Linked DNA regions of Homo sapiens. The protein of the gene in region 1 purifies or fractionates together with the protein of each later gene. This does not show direct contact. Each region holds a gene or a part of one and is shown on either strand. Other genes may lie near its edges. The genes, in order: STK38 and CTDP1.

Region 1 (8,327 bases):
ACAGAACCATAGCCTTTCAGAGAAAGGAAGTGACAGCAAACTTACCTGTTTAAAAAAAAAAGGAAAATCATGACAAGGCAGGTCACAGCTCGCCCACTGGGATGACCACAGGGGTGCAGGTGTTAAAGCAGAGGCTGCTCAGATCAGTAAACGTGCATAGTTCATGCCAATGCCCCCCCAATACCTTGCTGTCCAAAAGAAGGTTGTCTGGTTTGATGTCTCTGTGGATGAATCCAAGTTGGTGAATAGAGTCTATGGCTAATACTGTTTCTGCTATATAAAACTGAGTCTCCTCTTCTGTCAGAGTGTCTTTTTTCATCAACAAGGTCATCATGTCCCCTGGAAACAAGAAGATACAAAGCCACCACACACACACACACACACACACACACACACACACACAACATACGAGTGAGTACCAATTTTCAGATATGTCTTCCCTATCTGCCAAAATAAGGCGGCTAAACAGACCTCTTCTGTGTGCCAGAGATAGACCCACATGGCCAACATGGGAAGAAATGGGATTTTCACACCTAAGCTAGCTAAGGTTGACCACTAAGCTGTGATTTCTATTTTACTTTTGAGAGAAAAAGAAAATTTCTCCCACACTTTAAAAAACAACTGTATTTGCTTAGGATAATTTTTTGGACTCGGGGTAAAATGCTACTTTACTTTTCACTTTGCCTGAACAAGTATCTGCAAGCTTTTCTGCATCTGTAACTAAATGGCACTTCCACATACAATCTATGTATTGTTATAGAGAGGCTGAAATGCCAAATAAAAATGTAAACACTCGGGCAGGCTGAAAACAAGCTTTCCAACTTCTATTCACAGAACACAAACAAATAAAAAGGAAGGACTTGGGTAGCAAAGCATTAGTCAACAAAAGCTAAAAATGAACTGAAAATGCTATACACTAGAATGTGCAATAACTGCCTCCTGGAAGAGTACAATGAACACCTCTCAAGGTCAGTGCTTTTTTTTCTCTAGTGCGTTATTATAGGTATTTAAATGGACACTAGTACCCTTTATGTAACTTTTAAAACACAGTATCAGTATTCTAGCAGTTAAAAGGTAACCTCGTTAGTTTTCTGCAAAGTCAAAATTTCATCATTTCTAATACCAGCAACATAAAATGGCAGAAAAAGATTCAGGTCCTAACTCAACAGTGAGAAATGCAAAGAAAATATGTATAAGGAGTTTAAAACTAAGAGAAACAGTAAAGATTCAGTTTAGACCTCACATAAAGTCACTTATGTTAGAAAACAAGGAAAAGAGAAAGAAACCTCTGATTTTAACAGAGCATCATGCTGCTTTTTCAGTTTCATTTCATTTAGAACATTATGTTTTGTATTATTGGAGAAAAGTAGCTATTTTTCCCTCAGGCAAAAATTAAACCATTTATTAAAGTGCTCTTTTTCAGTCCAATACTTAAAAAATATGATTTCCTAATCACTCCTGGCAGCCCTTCAATCTGGAGACCCACCAGACACATGGAGACAGTGCACTTGGGCTGCTACCCCAGTAAGGTAGCTATACGGCCTTAGTTCTGTGGCTCAGGAGAGCAGTCAATGGGGCCTCGCCTGTGCAAGTTTGCCCAGATGATTGGAGAGCTCAGGCCAGATGCTCTATGGCTCTGCAGGCCAGCTCCACCAAGTGCAAAGGGCAGGGTCCAGGAGACATGAGAAGCTACGGAAGATGGTACAGGTTGAGGCTTGAGGACACGTTAGGAGCTGGTAACCAAGTTGGCTCTTACTCTTATTTAAGAACTAGCATCTAAATGTTAAAAAAGTTTCTCCTCATTCTACCAGACTCTTTTCTAACATTAATCAACTGTTTATTTTTTATTAAATGTGTTTCTTTATTAAAAAGTATTGATGACCCTAAATCTAAGGGTTGTCACAAAATCAAAATATTATGCCACAATTATAGGAACAAAAAAGAAAAAAGTTCTCTCTCTTTTTTTTTCCCACCAGAGTTTGCTCAGAGTTCATCTGCTCACTGACAAACAGACTGCTTTCCTCAGAACAGATGGCATGTTCTGTTCTGGGTTTACTTTGGAGCTGTCTTAGGAGATGCTCATGCTGAGTTACATAAAACTTAAAATTTCAGAAATGAGAAATTTTTTCTGGCTACTAATATGGGTAACAAAAAATTCACTCCTTATTAATATGTTATACAAAAAGAAACAAAAATTTGGAGCAAAGGATGTTATAGCTTCAATGTTGTCACTTGGGTTATTGATCATATATGATTCCCATTGACAGGAGAGCAGGCAGAGCACCCTAATTTATTCCTATATATTTTAAAAAGAAGAAGAAAAGAAAGAAATGTCCATCTGAAATCATGTAAATGAATTAACAGGTTACTTTTATGGTACTAAGATTGTAGAAAGGCACCCCAGCACAAGACAGGTTACTGACTTCCTTTATAGACCTAAAAAAGGATATAGAAAGCAACTTTGTGAGCACATTTAAAAGTAGAAAGGAGGGTTAATCGTGATGTGAGAGAAAGAAACCACAGAACAAAAAGAAAAAATGACCTTTCATCGTCAAGTAATTACCTCCAGGCAGGAACTCCATGATTAGGTAGAGGTTTAGCTTATCCTGAAAACTATAGAACATTTTCACAACCCACAAACTGTCTGCCTCCACTAGAATGTCACGCTCCGCACGAATGTGGCCAACCTGGAGGTATATGCATTTGATTAATGACAAAGCTTGCTCTGCTTTATTAGATTGTATATTTGCTTAAACAATTTAAATACTGTGCTTAAATACTGTTTTGAGTATTTAATCGTGATGATATAAAAGATCCAATTTCTGCTTAGGCAAACCTACTAACTCAAAATTGACAACATTTGACTTCAAGGTATTCAGTGATGAAAACTTGAGTGATGAAAGGCTTTAAAAAATGGCAAAATGAATGGCTTTAATGCAAATAGCAACTTTAACACTGCTATAAACTGAATCTCTGATTAGTTAAAATTACTACTCTTTTGCATAGAGTTTTGTCTAATAATCTTTTATGATAAAAATAAGTCCCCAAAGTGAGACTCTCTTCCAAGTTCTTCCTCGGGTCTGCACTAGTATCTGCAACAACAGTGAGCTCACTGACAAATTCTAGAATGCTATGATACCACAGCATTTAGTTCACTGCTATGTGCTCAATCAATCCTTACTGAATTGAAATACAAGAACACCTATGAAAAGTTGTAGATTCAAATTAATGACATTTCCAATTTTATACTTTTACTGAAATACCTATAAAGGACCAAGTTGTAGAAAGTTTCAGAGAACCGGAATTATTTTGTTAAAGCAATGCTTTATTATCAAATTTACCTTATTTACTTTAAATGCAGAACAGTAATCAAACATCACTGCATATTATCAAATCCCCCCCACACACACTTTTTTTAAAACAAGATGGGGTCTCGCTCTGTCACTCCGGCTAGAGTGCAGTGGCGTGATCATAGCTCACTGAAGCCTCAAACTCCTGGTCTAAAGTGATCCTCCTGCCTCAGCCTCCTAAGTAGCTAGGATTATAGGTGTGTGCCACCATGCCTGGCCCCTCCCCTCTTTTTTAAGTGTCACAAGGTCTAAATTGGGTTGATTCAGATCTAAATTTATTAAGACTCAGTCCAATCCCTGAATAGTGGTTTTGGTCTTAACATATGCTACAGGTCTTGACTTTTTACAACATGTTCTGAAGTAAAACATGTACCAAGGTTCACAAATTGGCAAATTTAGTCCATGGCTGTTGGCAAATTTAGTCCATGGCTGTTGTTTGGTTTAATACAATGTTTGATATGATGCTTGTTTTATTGACATGTCTTTAGGGAGACAAGGCACTCTTCCATTACTCTTCCATTTCAACACCCTCTCCCCTGGTCTTATATCTAACTTGCTTCAGGCTTCTATGCTAACTCTTGGAGGCCCAGAGGCATTTGACTTTATGTATTTGAGTTTTCAGTATCTACTAAAATCATTCTTTGGGGAATTTTTTTAAAAGCTGCAACTGTACAGAAAACCTACATCTTTACATCTGTACTTATGGTATTGGGGTGGGAAAAAATGGACAATAAGGGTGAAAAGAAACAGTGCTATGAAACACAATGAAACCAAGTAAAGCATCTGCCTTTACTTGACCTTAATACAGAAGCAAAGCTTTTGGGAAACAGTAACATTGCTTGCTGCCCCACAGCCATGGCTAGGACCCAGTCACTACAAGACATTAATACAGTAGAAGGCAGCCTTCATCTGCCTGTCTCCCCTGGCTCCCATTAAGCTCCCTACCTACTGCAGGGAGCCAGAGAAAAGGAGAGGCACTACAATTACCACTTGTCACTCACCCTGGAGGACACAATGGTGCCCATAACATTTCCTGTTTGTCAAGGGGAAAGCTACCATGAGCACACCTTGCCTTTCTCTTGAGGCTGAAACAGTAGCAAGAAACCTCATGGTTTGAAAGTGGAGTTGGCTGAATATAGATTAAGGGAGGGAAGAGTCTGAGGTGCAATTTATACAAAAAGGTTCTCTTTCCCCTATTCCATAAATATTTAATAAGGTGGGGGGTGCTAGTTGCTATCCTGTGCCCTAAGAAAGCAGAAATAAAAGCCAGTTTTTTGTCCCATCAATAACTGTATACTGGCATCACAACTGAAGGTTTTCCTTTTGCACTGGAAGAGAAACATCAGAAGCTAGTTAGATGTCATGTCTTACCCTTTAAATTTTTCCAGGTAGCAAAAATTTCCACCACGTGGAGCAGAAAAATAACCTGAACTCTCAGTGGGTAGCTTTAATTCCTACCCAGTTTATTTAGTAAAAGCAAACAAAAAAACAATTTTGCCTCTGTACCTCTACTTTGTCAGCCCTACCCCAAAATGGTGATGAATTTGCACTGGTCTACTTCCATCTTTTATCTAGCACAAAACCAATGCATGCTTCTTCAAGATGGCTAAGCCAGGTAGAGTCTGTGGCCAGAGACTTTAACTGGCTCATAATGAGATCTGTTAAGTTGAGGAGTTGAGTTCTCAGCTAAGGTGAGCTAAACAATTTAAGTTAATGTACCATTTAATCCATAAGTTAATGCATCATTTAAAATGTTAATTCTAATAGTTTCTTTACTTTCATTTAGGAAAGTTTTAGAAAGTGATTTTGAAGGCACAATATTTGCGAAAAGGCTTTTTACACATTATGTCTGGATCATCCTCTGTTAGAAACCATGCGGGGCACCTGGTATACATAAAATTACTAACTGAAAATCATATGTACTTTGTTTTGCAGTATTACTCTGACAGTTAATATTTAATAAAAAGAGGTCTTAAGCCTTGGTTAAAACTGTAGGAAACATACCTTGCAAAAACAAAACTTACTCATGAGATGCAAACATACTAATTAATGCAGAAGCTTTATATTTTCCTTCTCAAGATTAACTGAAACTTTTTCAGTGCCTACACACCCATACCACACACTAATTTGTAGATAGTATGTAAGTAGGCCGGCCTACTATGAATTTTGAAAAAGGTTGGCGTTAGCATAAACTATAGTGTCTCAAGACTTACCGCCCAGGTATTTGATACTCCCAACTGAAATTCCTGGGAGTCTAAAGCTTCTCGGTAACACATGAAAATTTGAGAGAAAATAAAAATTCCAAATTTTGGGGTGGCATTTAAATGAAGACAGGGAAGACCAGTGATTATATCTCCTCTCAAGAGGTAGAAAGGATTGGATGTGGGGCCAATCTCCATCCCCCCTCTTTGGCCCTAAATTAGGAGTTCTCCTTGTCACAGGGTCTCCATGTTCCTATAACATCAAATCTTTTACAGGACATTTGCGGTCATCACCCACTGCAATCTTTTCTTAAGCAACCAGCTACATTAAACTAGATTTATAGAAAGTCTATTCTTGCTTTTTAAAATATACTTTCCAATATTTAAAACCTTATTTATTTTGCATAAGGCACTTTATAAATTGATTTGCAAACCAGGTTTTGGTTTTAGAAAGTATCCTTTATCATTAAAGGAGAATTTGCATTGTTCTGTCATTTGCATTGTATTTTTCAAATTCATTCAGAAATTAGAAGGCTGGTCTTTTTCAGGTACCGATGAGCTACCTAGAAGACTCAACTTTGGTTTAGGTAAACAGAATGAAGCATATAAAGACACATTTTAGATTATAAATTCCAAATTCTAATTCCTAGTCCTTAGTTATGAGATATATATACAATTTCTATTTCTCAGCATTTGGTAAGAAACACACTACCACACCACGTACGACCTCAAAAAAAAAAGGCTCTCACAATAAGGACATCTTGTGATCAATTGGAAGACACAAGTAAGAGCTGCTTTTGGAACAGATTTTCAATTTTTAAAAGATTGCATATAACCTACAGGCATTATTTGTGATTTTAAATATGAACTGCTTCTTTGTAGGGGGAAAAAGGTAGTATTATATATATAGTCATACATGACAGAGCTAAAGAAAACTGTAATAAAAATATATATTTCAATTAAACAAAAAGAAAAGTTTTAGGAGACAAAAATTAATAAGCTAAAAGCACTGCTACAACTGTGCTTTACCTGCTCTTTTTCAAGCATATCTGCTTTACGGAGTATTTTCATTGCATACACATGTCCCGTATCTTTCTTCTGAACAAGCCGTACCTAAAAAGTTATAAAAGAAATGCCAAGTCAAAAACTCGTACTACCAACCTAATGCTTTCATGTGTTATAGGATGCAATAATTAACTGAAAAAGTATTACAATTTTAACATGAGCAACTAGTAATAACAAAGCAGAAGAAAATGCTTTTCAGTGTTCCAAAATGAATACATTACACACAGTAAAGTCGATGCTGGAAACATCCTCAAATACCTCTACATCTGAACAGCTTTGGTTCCTTAGTTGAACAAGCCAATCTAATTTAAAACCTTCAATTTCAAATTTAAGGACTCGTTACACCTCTGACACATGTCATCCAGTCAGCTCAGAAAATCTAAGTAAATGATTACAATGATGTTTAATTAAAACAAAAGTAGCTGTGCATGGTGGTGTATACCTGTAGTCCCAGCTATTTGGGAGGTTGAGGTAGGAGGATCGCTTGAGCTCAGGAGTTATGAGCTATGGTGCATTATGCTGATCAGGTGTCTGAACTAAGTTCAGCATAATATGGTGACCTCCCAGGAGCAGGGTGGCAGAGGGGGGGCCCACCAGGTTGCCTAAGGAAGGGCAAACAGGCCCAGTTCAGAAATGGAGCAGGTCAAAACTCCCATGCCAATCAGTAGTGAGATCGTGCCTGTAAACAGCCACTGCACTCCAGCCTGGGCAACACAGTGAAACCTTGTCACTTAATCATAATAATAATAACAAAGTAAAACTTCATGCTTAGGAAAAACGTCTGGAAAGAAAAACAAAAAATTCAGGCCAGGCGCGGTAGCTCACACCTATAATCTCAGCACTTTGGAAGGCCGAAGCAGGTGGATCACCTGAGGTCCAGGAGTTCGAGACCAGCCTGGCCAACCTGGTGAAACCCCGTCTACTAAAAATACGAAAATTAGCTGGGTGTGGTGGCAGGTGCCTGTAATCCCAGTTATTCGGGAGGCTAAGGCAGTAGAATCACTTGAACCCGAGAGGCGGAGGTTGCAGTGAGCCAAGATCAAGCCATTGCACTCCAGCCTGGGCAACAGAGCAAGACTCTGTCTCAAAAAAAAAAAAAAAAAAAAAAAGAAGAAGAAGAAAATTCAAAATGTGTAATTAGGGAAATTGTGTTTTATGTAGTTTTCCTTCTCTTTTATGTTTTCCAATGTTCTTAAAGAAAACAGATAATTTTATGAAGAAAATTTACAACCAAAAGAAAAATTTCACTGCAAGTTCCTGCATGTCCTCCCCTCTTCTCCCAAAATAAGTAGGTTTTCTTCTCCCTGAACCTTTCTTCATGTTTTTCCTAATTGAGTACCACAACCCTTCCTTGCCAAACAGAAAGCTCTTTCAGAGGTGGTACTATACTTTTCCCTCTTTCAAGAAGCCAATAGGAATTCTGAACACTGAGGGATCAATCTATCACCTGTGCCTCTGAATACTATTCACATTTCCCCGGGGTACCAGGTTTTTTGTTTTTTTTTTTTTTTGAGATGGAGTCTTGCTCTGTCACCCAGGCTGGAGTGCAATGGTGCAATCTCGGCTCACTGCAACCTCTGCCTCCTGGGTTCAAGCAATTCTCCTGCCTCAGCCTCCTGAGTAGCTGGGATTACAGGCACGTGCCACCACACCCGGCTAATTTTTCTATTTTTAGTAGAGACAAGGTTTCACCATGTTGTCAGGCTGGTCT
Region 2 (8,327 bases), on another chromosome or scaffold:
CCATTCTTGTGCCTCAGCCTCCCGAGTAGCTGGGACTACAGGCGTGTACCACCACACCCAGTTAATTTTTATATTTTTAGTAGAGACGGGGTTGTGCCATATTGGCCAGGCTGGTCTCGAACTCCTGACCTCAAGTGATCCTCCCGCCTCGGCCTCCCAAAGTGTTGGGATTATAGGCATTGAGCCACCACGCCCGGTGATTTTTAATAATAAAGTATTTTTAAATTAAGTTAGGTACATTGTTCTTTTAGATATAATGCTATTGAATGTTTAATAAGCTGCAGTAGAGTGTCAGCATGGATTATATTCACTGGGAAACCAAAAAATTCATGTGATTCTCAGTATCTCCAGGATAGGCCTGCTGAAGACAGTGGAGTCTAGTTATAATGTGGCTGTTTCTCAGTTGTGTGGTCTGGAAGGTGACAGTGTCCTGATGTAGTGGGGAGGGGGGTCTAAGCATGAACGGTCTGTCCTCTGCCTCCTCAGTAGCAGTAGTGTGCCCCACTTGACATCCAGAGGAGACCCTGAGGCTGGTGCCTGGCCCTACTGCTGGCCCCTCTGAAAGCAATTTCAGGGATCAGAAGTGGTGCTGGCCACAGCTCCCGAAGCCTGGACAGCTGCTGGACTTTTTACTGTTGAGTAATGGGAAAGTTGTTACTAGAACTTCTCACTCCTAAATATTTGACAGAGTAGCTTCTTCATGACGGTCGTGACTAACTTAGAGCTAGAAAAATGTAACTGGGAAAGTTGTTACTAGAACTTCTCACTCCTAAACCTTGAACAGAGTAGCTTCTTCATGAGGGTCGTAACTAACTTAGAACTAGAAAAATGTAACTGAGCTTAAGTCATCTACCTTTTTTTAAAGCCATTAAGAGTAAATATTTTACTGAGAAAATAACAGGATTTAAAGGATCGAAGTTTAGCTTCCTAAGGAAAGCAGACTCATTTGCATGTCGATCATATGTAAGCGAGTCGGTGTTGCTCATTTCACTGTCTACTAAATATGACTTAGAATACTTTCAGCTTTTATGTTGTATATGTAGATGAAAGAAACTGTCTGAAAATCACCCATGCGTTATACCAGGTTACCCGGGAATGTTGATTTCCTTTATTCAGTAGCTCAGGAAAACACTGTCAGCACGTGATGTTGGTGGAGGTCTGTTCCGAGCAGCTGCGGTGGCCTTGCTGTGTAACACGTATCAGCGAGGAAACAAAGGCAGAAGTGACATCAGTGGTTAGCTCATAGTTAGTGTAGGTTGTTACTGTTGGCGTGGTTATCAGGGGTGGTTATGTCCTAGGCGGTCGTTGCAGGTAGGTAGTTACCAGGAGTAGTTAGTGTAGCTATCATCGGTGGTTATGTAGTTATCATAGGTGGTGACTGTTGGCGTGGTTATTGGGGATGGTTATCGTGTAGTTATCACAGGCTGTTACTCTTGGCTGGTTATCGGGGGTGGTTATCCTAGGCGGGTCGTTGCAGGCAGGTAGCTATTGTGAGTAGTTAGTGTAGCTGTCATCGGTGGTTATCATGTAGTTACCGTAGGCTGTTACTGTTAACGTGGTACCCAGGGTGGTTATCTTGAACAGTTGTTGCAGGTAGGTGGTTATCCTAGTTACCACGGGCAGTCAGTATTCACACTCACTGAGGGCATTCCCGCAGCAGAGAAGGCCGCACTCACTCACTCGTACCGCGTGCATGGAAACTACTTACACAGTGGGTTTTAAATGCCACGGGTAGCCCCTTGCACCAGTTAGGGTCACGTCCTTATTTGGAGGGTCAGGCGGACATGCGTCCTCTGTCCCACGTGGAGAGGTGTGTGCACACTCCTATCCCCTGTCCCATGTGGAGGGGCGGGTGCAAACGCATCCTCTGTCCCACGTGGAGTGGTGTGTCCACACGCATGTCCTCTGTCCCATGCCCACGTGGAGGGGCGTGTACACACGCATGTCCTCTGTCCCGTGTGGAGGGGCGTGTACACGCACACGTGTCCTCTGTCCCGTGTGGAGGGGCGTGTACATGCTCACATGTGTCCTCTGTCCCGTGTGGAGGGGCGTGTACATGCAAACGTGTATCCTCTGTCCCATGTGGAGGGATGGGCACATGTGTGTCTTCAGGACGCCTGTCTCAGGCACCCGTGTGTCTTCAGGACGCCTGTCGGGCACACGCGTGTCTTCAGAACGCTTGTCTGGGGCACACGTGTGTTCTCAGGATGCCTGTCTCGGGCACACAGGTTGCGGGGGCGGCCGGGGCTCCTCAGGCCTTTTCTCCCGACTGTTGCTACTATTCTTTTTAGGGCATCTTTCACTTCCAGCTGGGCCGGGGTGAGCCCATGCTGCACACGCGCCTGCGTCCACACTGCAAGGACTTCCTGGAGAAGATCGCCAAGCTGTACGAGCTGCACGTCTTCACCTTCGGCAGCCGGCTGTACGCACACACCATCGCAGGTCAGTCAAGCCGCAGCCGAAGAGGCCGTGTGAACAGTGGGTTTCTTTCCTGTTTTCGGTGATGGTTTCTTAAAGATGAAGAAAGAAAAGAAGCTCTCCTGCAACTCAGTTGTAGTCTTAGGGTTGGCCGTTGTGCAGGGGGTTGTGAGAGGTAAGGGAATTCTGCCACCAGGGCTGTTGGGTGGGGCCGCGGCTGCTCTGGCCGGGTGCGGTACTGGGTGGGCCGCTTTGGGAGTTTGTCAGGACCACATGGGCACGTGGAAACTTCTGCGAGCGTCCTCCGACAGATACCTTCTTAAATCAGTTCACAGGGACTTTGGGCCGGGCTGCTTGTGTGTGCTCTTGCTGGGTGCTGTCACTGCACACAGCATGATTGTCCCCTGCCTACACATGGGTACCCTTAGGGTTTAGCGTTTGCTTCTGTCTCCCTGGGTGATAGCGTGAATGCCAGGCTACGGTGCCCTCTGGGAGGCAGCACCAGCAGGACGAATCGAGGGGACAGTGCCACGGGACGGTGACTGTCCCATGTGGATGCAGTGAGGGGACGCCACAGGATGGTGACCGTCTGTCCTTCATGGACAAAGCGAGGGGACAAAGTGGGACAGCGACCGTCTGTTCCACGTGGACGAAGCAACGTCTGTCCCACGTGGACGAAGCAAGGGGACAGTGCGGGACGGCGACCGTCTGTCCCACGTGGACAAAGCGAGGGGGCTGCCACGGGACGGCGACCGTCTGTCCCACATGGATGTAGGCGCCGAGTGGCAGTGTAGGCAAGCTCCTCCGTACTGGCTCCAGAGGTTGTTAGACTGAGCATTTTAAAATTCAAAGGTCTTTCTAGATTGGTCTTAGTCTTTTGTTGTTGTTGGGGAAATGAATTTTGAATCCTCCTTTAATATTTAGTGCCTTTATAGGAAATTGTGATCATGACCTTTAATTCCTCTTGTAATTGAAATTTGAAATATTCACCTGTAACATTATGGCTGCTGCTGCATAGCTGCCTGAGACAGATGATGTGAAGACGAGTAATTATGCACAAGGGTGATATTGCTCACTTCCTCGGGCCAGTGAAGAAATAATGCCTGCTATGATCTGAGGGTTTTACAGCCCCCAAGTCCATGTGTTAAAACCCAGTCCCAGGGCGAGGGTGTTAGGAGGGGCGTGGGAGGTGGTGAGGTCCTGTGGACTCCATCCTCGTGAATGGAATCAGGGCCCTTACCCAGGTGGGCCCTGGGAGCTGCGGGAAATGCAGCAAGCCGGCGCCCACTGACCTGCAGCCAAGTTGCTGGCGCCGTGGTCGGACGCCGGCCTCCAGAACTGTGAGGAAGGGACGTGTGTTCCTGAGTCACCCACACTATGGAGTTTCTTTAGAGCAGCCCAGGCCGACTAAGCTGCCCACTGTGTGGAAATAGACCCCCAAATCCCCATGTGTTCCAGCCCCAGATTGTGCCGTTGCAGCCAGTGCCAGGCACCTCCCAGAGGACAACCCATAAGTCACACAAACCGCAGGGACAGTGACGCCCACTCAAACCAGACAACTGAGCGGGGCATCACTCTCACAATAACAAATGTCAGGGAAAGACTAAAAACCAGAAAATTATTCCTCACGCTCATCATATCCATGGCTGTCCCCTATTCTCTGGTTTTTTTTTTGTATGTATAATTTTGCCTAGTTTGTCTTAATATATGTACAAGTTTACATACCGTTCTTTTCACATAAGATTTCATCACTAAGAATTTATCCATCACGTTGTTATAAATCTTCATCATTTTATGTAAGATTTTTTTCCCTCCTCTGTGGACTGGATCCTCTGGGTGAGTTCCTAAAACCAGGATTGTTCGGTGAGGGAGTGGTTCCTGACCCCCAGGACTGTGAGGACTGCACGCCGCATGGCCTGCTCCCTGGGAGGGTGACGGGTTTGCCTCCCGCCTCCCACACAAGGCGCACACCAGCGGGCACAGCCCGGTGACCTGCACGTCTGAGTCCAGGATGCCAGTGATGTTTCTTCTCCTCCTGTCCCGTCTTCCATACGTTGATCTGGTGCCCGTGCAAGTGTTTCTCATTTCGGATTTCCTTCTCCAGGTCTCTCTCTGAAGCTGGGCTTCTTTAGGTTCGCTGTTTCACACGTCTTGCTTATCCTTTCCTGAGGTGCATCGATGTTTGCTGGTCAGAGCACACAAGCCCCAGTGAGGAGGAGCATGTGGAAGGCTCGGATCTGTTTAAATGCTTGGCTGGAGGGGTTTGGGCTAAAAGCAGAGGGTCCCAGGTTTTAGCCGGGCTACACCCTTGCCACCCGTCACACCAGCAGGCAGGGTATGGGTCACCACAGTCTGATTCCACGTTCATGAGGCCTCGTGTGGTGAGAGATGAAGCAGGTGACGAGAACGCCATGTTTCTTTATCAGCCTGAAAGCTGGAGGGAGCCTGGGAGCTGCTCGCAGATTCAGCAGAGCATCCATGCAGACATCCGCAGGCCTCTGAGCCGCTTAGACAGCAGAGCAGGGAGCCTGCTGGTGGGCGCTTGGCTGCGGAGAGCCTCGAGCGCGGGTCCTCCTGCAGTGAGACCAGCTAGGTTTGTTGAGCGTCACCGGGCCGTCTGGTGCCTTCTCCGTTTCAAGCTCTGCTTTCTATGCTAAAGTTCCAGCATTCCAACGTGTCCAAGGGATGTCGGCCAAAACCAGACGAAGACATCACAAGAAAACTGCAGACCAGTATCCCTTTGAACATGGATGCAGAAATTCTCAACAGAACATGGGCCCTCGAGCCCAGCAACGCAGGAGGAAGACTGTGTCCAGGCTGTGGTTCAGGAAGGCCGAGCTTTGCTTCATTGTGGCTGGCGGGATCTGTAGAGATGACCTGGGTCAGCTTTTCTACAAGTGAGAAAGTGAGGTCCGGACTGAAGCCTGAGGTGGTCGCCGAGCATCTGCTTTTGATGCTTTTCATTTTGAAAGTGACCGTGTTGATAGCATGCGTGCTTTCAGTATGACTAGGACAGAGATGTTAAGAGTTTGCGATGCGTGTCTTTTATCTGATAGTAGAGACGCTAATAATTCTATTAACAGACTTTAGATCTAGCGACTTCATGGCCTCAGTGATCATCTGGAATTTACGCATAGTGAGAAACAATCGCATTTATTTCTCCTTTAAGCCCAAGTATCTTTTGGTTAATGAAATACTAACAAACCAGTGGTATCAGGGAACGGAAAGCTCCTGGCAGTACTGCATTTGAAACGTCTGGAGGTGGTGATGCTTCAGCCAGGAAGCAGGTTCATCTTCCCAGAAGATCTTACGGATCCCACAGTGCATTGTGCATAGTGCCGTGGGGCTGCAGGGTAACTGAGGTGGTGCACAGAGCAGCTCTTCTGTTTTAATTGTAATGTGTATGTTTTAACCTGTATCAAAAACAGCAAATGTGTTTCTCGCATTTGTGATCTCAGAGGTGGTGGTGCAGAGGTTGAGCCCAGTAGGGATGGGTGCAGGGAGTAGTTGATTAAAAGCCAGCGTGAAAACAATAGTGATTATGTGGAGTGCAGTCAGGGCACGTTCAGATCCGGAAGTGGACCCCGTGTGCCACGTGGGGACGTGGAGCCAGGCGTTCCGGGGTGCATTCGGATCCGGAAGTGGACCCCGTGTGCCATGCAGAGGCGTGGAGCCAGGCGTTCCAGTGAGACTTAAGTCTTGAGAGAATGTGGGCTGCGTGGTTGGACTTTGGGTTCACAGTGCTTTTGAGATGTCTCATCTACCTCCTTTGCTTCATGCATAACTAACGGTTATGCAGGGGACCTGCGTGCCATGACAAGACCACAGTCCCAGCTCCCGACTCTGGACCGGCTCACTCTTGTGCAATCCAGTCCCCGTTTTGTTCCACGGCACCTGCACGTGTCAGGCCAGATAGAGGTTGTGTGTTAATGTGTTCAATTTTCTTACAATTTCAGCCTCTTGGGAGAGTAATAATTATGTTGTATTCATTCCCGCACCTTATATTCCTAGCAAAATTCCAAGTAATGTTAAACTCAGTAAATGTTAAATGATCGAATACCCTTAAACACGTTATGTGGGTGCCATGGAATACCTATCTCTTGAGGTATGTGCAGATTTATGGCTTCAGCCACTTGTATGATGAGTAGCTGAAACATTTCTTTTTGAGGCTTCATAATTAACCGTAGCTTTTTCTCTCCAGAATGTTTTAAATGGCTGGTGAAATTAAATTGACATTGAACTTGATGCCTCCAACATATTTTACCAATGGAATAAATTACCTGAAAGGTTGTTTTGTTTTTGTTTAGTACCCCTACTTCTACAAACTGAAATATGTTTCCTATATACTCTGTGGTTCTTGTAAACTAACAAGAGATAACTTATTTTTAAATTATCTTTATTTAAAAATATGAGCACTTTACTGTAAATTGAAGACTTTGCAAACTTAGGAAGATAACACAGTAGGCTTAAAGTTCAGAAGATAAATTTATAGATCAAGAAACCCAGAGCAGAGGTGATCCCAAGAAACCTCTGCCTGATTTGTTGATTTTCACAGTGGTGCTTCCTGAAGTGTAGAAGGGATGTTTGCAGATAGCTTGGTTTTACTATCTTTAAGGAGTCGAAGCTGAGCATCAAGCATGTGAAGCTCTTTAGAAAATTACTGTTAAAAAGTTAAACTAGACTTGTAATTAACGGATGTCATGTGAAGTGCAAGTGTCAAATGTAGCCTAAGCGGATTCTTCGCTGTGGAAGCACCTTCTGCACTAGCTGGTCAAGGTGGTGTCCCGGATGTCCTTCCTTCCCAGTCTCCTCTGTCAGGCAGGCTTCCTCGATGTTGCCTAAATTACCATTATTAAAACGTGTATAATAGTTAGAAATAACCGGCCTTTCTGTGTATTTCTACAACACAGAGTGTGAGTTTGTATAATTCTACTAAAGTAACTTGGGAGAAGCAAACTTCCTTGATAACCTTTCCTCCACTAACCATTACAGATGAGAGCAGTGGGCCACCCGCCTGGGGTTAGGAAAGATCATATCCGAGGTGACGCAGAGTAATTTCAGCTTAGTGTCCAGACTCCATCACGTGAAGAACCACATGCAGAGTGTTTTGAGATCAAATGATGACTTACCTGTTTTACTTATGCAAGTGCCTTCCATAATTTTCATATCCATCTGGTTTAGATAGGCACTTCAGTAAGATATTACAAATTTTTCATGTTAGTAGAATTATAAACACTTATCAACATGGTTTGTGTTTGAGAAATAAGTTCACCATAAGAGAAAAGAAGCCCCACACGAGCCACGTCTTACCTCAAAAGGGATGAAGTGTTTGGTGCCAGTTCATCATGTTGTGTGTCTGCCACTTTAAAAAAAACATTCAAGGCTTCACCATGTGCCGTGTGACCGAAACGTGTCTCAGGTATGTAATCTTTGTCCTGTTTTCTTTTCCAAGGCTTTTTAGACCCCGAGAAGAAGCTTTTTTCTCACCGAATATTATCAAGGGATGAATGTATTGACCCATTTTCTAAAACGGGAAACCTTAGGTATGTACCCAGCCGCGCTCCTCACAAAGACCTCGCTGTTCATTTCCCATTTCAAAAATCGCATCTTGAAATTTAGAGCAGTATTTCTTTTTTTCTTTTTTTTTGAGACGGAGTCTTGCTGTTGCCCAGGCTAGAGTGCAGTGGCGCGATCTCGGCTCACTGCAAGCTCTGCTTCCAGAGTTCACGCCATTCTCCTGCCTCAGCCTCCTGAGTAGCTAGGACTACAGGCACCCACCACCTCGCCCGGCAATTTTTTTTTTTTTTTTTTTTTTTTTTTTTTTTGTATTTTTAGTACAGACGGTGGTTTCACTGTGTTAGCCAGGATGGCCTCGATCTCCTGACCTCGTGATCTTCCCGCCTCAGCCT

The links.
Region 2: the proteins of STK38 (region 1) and CTDP1 purify together in Homo sapiens (affinity purification with western blotting; 2 studies listed by BioGRID and IntAct, with this or other methods). This does not show direct contact.

Annotation. Positions count from the first base shown.
Region 1 is NC_000006.12:36,515,154-36,523,480, forward strand, and holds part of STK38 (serine/threonine-protein kinase 38), read right to left. Parts: intron 6,665-8,327; coding exon 6,581-6,664; intron 2,688-6,580; coding exon 2,564-2,687; intron 340-2,563; coding exon 185-339; intron 1-184. UniProt on the Homo sapiens protein: Serine/threonine-protein kinase that acts as a negative regulator of MAP3K1/2 signaling. Converts MAP3K2 from its phosphorylated form to its non-phosphorylated form and inhibits autophosphorylation of MAP3K2.
Region 2 is NC_000018.10:79,702,476-79,710,802, forward strand, and holds part of CTDP1 (RNA polymerase II subunit A C-terminal domain phosphatase), read left to right. Parts: intron 1-2,291; coding exon 2,292-2,442; intron 2,443-7,870; coding exon 7,871-7,961; intron 7,962-8,327. UniProt on the Homo sapiens protein: Processively dephosphorylates 'Ser-2' and 'Ser-5' of the heptad repeats YSPTSPS in the C-terminal domain of the largest RNA polymerase II subunit. This promotes the activity of RNA polymerase II.